Regions from separate parts of the Homo sapiens genome. Here region 2 is linked to region 1. A link means that fine-mapping ties the variant in region 1 to the expression of a gene that starts in the linked region. Tissue or cell type: whole blood. Region 1 holds a variant in brackets; the other region holds the start of a gene. All regions are shown on one strand. Distances are from middle to middle.

What was found. PIP is the estimated chance that this variant, and not a neighbour inherited with it, causes the effect.
Region 2: it holds the start of TAL1, and the variant in region 1 is fine-mapped to the expression of TAL1 in whole blood (INTERVAL, PIP 0.98).

Annotation. Positions count from the first base shown.
Region 1 is chr1:47,204,878-47,207,561 of GRCh38, forward strand. No RefSeq gene overlaps it. Among named protein-coding and RNA genes, the nearest start is that of PDZK1IP1, 16 kb to the left of the region's middle. The variant A/G (reference allele first, on the strand shown) is at 1,060.
Region 2 is chr1:47,230,951-47,233,634 of GRCh38, forward strand. It overlaps TAL1 (TAL bHLH transcription factor 1, erythroid differentiation factor), which reads right to left and starts at 1,275. Exons shown (of 5, transcript NM_001290403.2): 1 at 1,217-1,275. RefSeq lists enhancers at 1-470, 471-1,444.

The DNA of each region.
Region 1 (2,684 bases):
CCTTGGGAGGCCGGGGCTGGTGGATCACCTGAGGTCAGGAGTTCGAGACCAACCTGGCCAACATGGTGAAACTCCATCTCTACTAAAAATACAAAAATTAGCTGAACGTGGTGGTGGGCACCTGTAATCCCAGCAACTTGGGAGGCTGAGGAGGAGAATCACTTGAATCTGGGGGGTGGAGGTTGCAGTGAGCCAAGATCGTGCCGTTGCACCCCAGCCTGGGCAACAAGAGCCAAACTCTGATTCAAAAAAAAAAAAATAGCTAGAAAAGAGGATTTGAAATGCTCCCAACACAAAGAAATGACAAATACTCGAGGTGATGGATGTCCTAAATACCCTGCCTTGGTCATTATACATCCTATGCATGTAACAAAAATCACATGTACCCCATAAATATGTACAAATATTATGTATCAATAAAAATAAAATAAAAAAGAAGAAATTACAATAGTATATATGGGTTACAGAGCTTGAGTTTTGAAATGGGACACATATAAGTTGGGATCCGGTTCTGCTTTTTCCTCGTGGTGTGACTTTAGTGAGTCCCTTGCCCCCTTGGGTTTTAGTTTATCCATCTAAATAATGGGGGTGATAATAGCACCCTCCTCTTGGGTTTGTTGGGGGAGTGAGGTGAGAAGGTGCTAGAAAGCACTTGGCATAGTGCTCACTGAGCACTATGACCCAGCCCTGTCTGCATTATACACCATCCAAATGCAGATCTCTCCCAAAGTTACATTTCCAACCCAGACCACTCCACTGACAGGGTCTCAAACGTAAGATGTCCTGAACTGAGCTCCTGAGCTCACCCCACTGAAAACCAGCTCCTCCCACAGCCTTCCTGCTTAGTATGCGGTGTTCTGGCCCTCCAGCGATTCAGAGGAAGGATCTCATAGTTGATTTTGACGTTCCCCTCTGACGCTTTCCACACTGGATCCATCAGTAGATCCTCTTGGCTCTTTCTAAATATATCTAGACTTCTATAATAATACTTATTACCACCTCCATTGCTGCAACATCCAAGCCCCTTATCGCTCATTAGCCTTATCACAATAGTGTCCT[A/G]ACTGATCTCCCCAATTTTGCTATGCTCCATTCTGTCTGCTCTCACCATGACAGCCAGAGAGATTCTTTCGAAAATTTAGTCCCTTGCCTATTCAATATCCTCTGATGGGGCCAGGCGCAGTGGCTCACACCTATAATCCCAGCACTCTGAGAGGCCGAGGCTGGAGGACTGCTTGAGCTCTGGAGTTCGAGACCAGCCTGGGCAACATAGTGAGACCTCATCTCTACTAAAAACCAAAGGCATGGTGGCGCCTGCCTGTGGTTCCAGCTACTCAGTGGGCTGAGGTAGGAGGATTGCCTGAGCCTGGGAGATCAAGGCTGCAGTGAGCTATAATTACACCAGTGCACTCCAACCTGAGCAACAGAGAGGGACCCTGTCTCAAAAATAAATAAATAAATATAAATAAAAGAATAATAAAACAAATCCTCCAATGTTATTGCATCCCACCCAAAGTAAAAGCCAAAGTCCCTATGTGGACTAGAGGCTCCATGTGGTACCTCTCCAACCCATCTCTCACTCCTCTCCTCCTCATTCCAGCCATTCCTGCTTCCTTGCTGCCCTGAACCAGTCCATGCCAGGCACACTGCAGCCTCAGGGCCCTTGCACTAGCTGTTCCCCTCCATTACACTCTTTCCCCAAATATCTGCATGGCTTATTGCCTCATCTCCTTCAGGTCTTGACTCCGGTGACCCCTATTCTGCGAGACCCTCTTGCTTACTTCCAAAAAAGGCCCTCCCTTCATTGAAAACCCCCTAAAACACACACACACACACACACACACACACACACACACACACACACTCACTATTCCCTTTCCCAGCTTCATTCTTCTCTTTGGCATTTATCCCCATCCAATCCACTAATTATTTAACTTATTTTTCTTATTTATCATCTGTCTCTCCACTAAGAATATAAACTTCACCAAAGAAAATGTTTCTTTTTCATTGCTCTATTCTGGTCATTGCTTTAAGAACAGGACCTGGGAATACAAAAAATTAGCCAGGCGTGGTGGCGGGCGCCTGTAGTCCCAGCTACTCGGGAGGCTGAGGCAGCAGAATGGTGTGAACCCGGGAGGCGGGGCTTGCAGTGAGCCGAGATCGCGCCACTGCACTCCAGCCTGGGTGACAGAGCGAGACTCAGTCTCAAAAAAAAAAAAAAAAAAAAAAAAAAGAACAGGACCTGGCATGTGTGATGTGCTCAACACATATTGATTTTAAAAGTGACATGCCAAGGGGCTACATTGGAGCATTGAAGCCCCCTTCAATCACACAAGCAGGTGCCTACCTCTCCTGCAACTTTCCTGCAAAATCAGGATGCCAGTGCATGATGCAAACCCTTTCCGACTAGAGATGGAGCCGGGAAAGATGCAAGCTCTGGGCTGGAGGGTCAGCGAGGACACTCTGTGCAGAGGCTTTGGCCTTGTGTACCATGGACCTCTGGGGCAGTGTGGTGGAGTCTATGATCCCCTTAAAAATTAATGCCTTAAACACATAAAATAAAATACATAGAATAATGAAAATCAAAGGCATTGAAATACAATTGTCAAGATATTTTAAATTTTTATGATGTAATTATATGTGTGCCTCCTTACTCATGGATTAAATGAAAAGATCTAGCAACAAGT
Region 2 (2,684 bases), 26 kb after region 1:
AATGTCCCCACCCGAGGCTCGAGGCCTGGTGAATGTGCCCATTGTCCTTTCGGGGCCTCTCCCTTGGAGCCCGGCGGCCGCACCCACGAAACTGACCAGAAATGGATGAAGCCGGAGTGCAGCGGGAACCGAAGCCCGCAGCTACCGGCTCGAAGGCGCCGGCCTCGGCGAGCGCTGCTCAGCTTCAAGCCTGGAGGAGCCTCCCACTCACCAACGAACCCCTCAAACACCTAGGCACAGGCGGGCCTCCGGGCAGAGCAGCCGCCGACCGGGCGCTGTCCGCCCACCCAAGCCAACAACTGGCTCCCGAATACATCATAATTTGGAATAAAATGTGAAATCCCGCTCCCCGCCCCCATGCCGCCGCCCCCACCAGCGCCTCGATCTCTCGCTCGCCCTCCCCCCACTCCCGCCCCCAGCGATTTGCAAACGCACCTCTAAAGGACACAGGCACACAGGCATACAACTCAGTGCGGACAGGACCACACAGGGTCCAGCCCCACAGAAGGGCAGCAAACAAACACCACCTAGCACTGCCCCAGAAGCCGACTTGGTCAGCCCCGCACACTGCCCAACAGGACACAACGAAATCAGTCAAACGCAGCGGCTCACGGACACACAATCCAGCACAGTCGGGATCACACACGCCCGACATAACGACGACACCACCCAAACACAGTCGCAGGGGCCACACACCCCCACACACAGAATCAGATCCCTGCTGAGAACACCAACGGAGCACAATCGTACGCAACGAAGAAAACGCAGAAGGGCCTCGAAGGGTCCACATCTACACACCCCAACCGCGCAGGCACACCACACTCGGACACAGAGCCTGTCGCCAAGAAGACCACACTTAGAAGCAGCCAACGCCGCCCACAGTTCTCATGAACGCACTCTCACAATCCCACCGCATGCACACAACCACGAAGAAGAAATGAAAACCAACCACAGCCTCGCGCATTTCTGTATATTGCGTAAGGAAAAGGGGGAAGGAAGGAAGAGAGTCTCCGAGGCGGGAGGGGCGGCGGCAGCCGGGGCGGGGGCGTCCGTGGAAAATGCCCCCCCACCGCCCCCCCCGGCCATCGAAAGGAACCGAGGGAAAGGGAGCGAAGACCTCTTTTGCGGACGTGGGGAAAAAGAGGAGGAAATTGATGAAGAATTCGGTGGGAGGCCGCGGGTTGCTTTTCCCCTAGAAAAAGGCCAGAATGCTCACGTTTTTCCGCTACGGGGGTACGCGTGTGGCCATTTTGAGGCCCGGTCCTGAGCGGCGGCGGCCCGGCCCCTCCCGCGGCCCCCGCTCCCCCGCCCGCCCCGCGCCCGCCCGGCCCCTCCACCGACGCGCTGTAATCCCACTCACGTTCCAGGCCTCGTTAGCATGGGCCGAGGCGCGCCGGGGCCGTGTGCGCCGCAGAGATAAGGCACTGCCGCGGGTCCGCCCGCCCCCGATAAGCGCCTCGGCCATTATGGGCCAAATGATTCATTTTAATTTGGCAATTTCACCGGAGGGAGTGGGGACTGGTTGAGCGGCGCTAGGACCGGCTCCGGAACGCGCTGCGGGGAGCGTTGGACGCGCTGTCTAGGACCCAGCAGATCCAGCCCCCATCTCTAATCCCAAGGCCTCTCAGGAACCCCAGCTTCCCACAACCTCAGTCCCTTAACCTTTCAGACACCTTTCTTCAGCGACTCTCACCCCAGCACTCTGTCCCTACCTCTGAAGACCACCATGATACCAAAATCGTCACCTCCCAGGGCTTCTTTCTTATTCTTCCTCCAGTGTCCCAGACACCCAGATTTCAATGGGCAGTCTCCCTATCCCAGAAAGCTCCCCAGCCCTTCCCTACCTCTTCACCCCCTTCTAAAATAGAGCCGGTAACTCAAATCCATGGGCTCTACGGCGGCCTGGCAGAACCCCTGTCAATAGGGACATAAAATGCCTATTCTGCTAGGTTTCAGGCTGAGCCCAGAGCCCAGGAACACTGCTCCCCACATGGTATTTAAAAAAAAAAAAAAAGTTTAATCTAGCGACTGTAACACTATTCTAGGCATTCTGCAAATACTAATCTACTCTTCACAAACAGTCCTGAGAAGCTGGATCCTTAATTTACAGAAGAGAAAACTGAGGCACAGAAAGTCAAAGTAACTTTTCGAATGATACATAGCTAGTGCTTGGTGGAGTCTGCCTTGGAAGGAAATTTGACACGGAGTCTTCTCTGCGGCTCAGCTGATGAAGAGGGGCAGCCAAAACCTAGCCAGGGAAAGGGACCTGGGCTCAACTCATTGCAGAGACCAGGGTCTTTACTGTGGGGTAGAAATCTGAGTTCAGTGCCAGCTGGATGATGCGCTCAGCCCACGGAGGGTCTCTGGGTTCATTCTTTCATGGTGGAGTGGAAAGAACACATGTTCGAATTTTAGTCACTGATCTCTGAACCTCAGTTTTCTCATTTGTAAAATGGGGAGATAATGTCGACGTCACAAAGTTATGAGAACTAACTTATATGACCTTTAAAAGGTGGTGGTGAGGATAATAATGTATGGAACGTCACTCAGTCCACAGCCCAGGAAAACATCATATGCACTTGCATGGGAGTTCTGGTTATCATCATAGAGAAAGAAATTAAGACACAGAGAGATGTGACTTAGCCAAAACTTACAGTAACCCAAAGGAAAAGCCAGGACCCAAA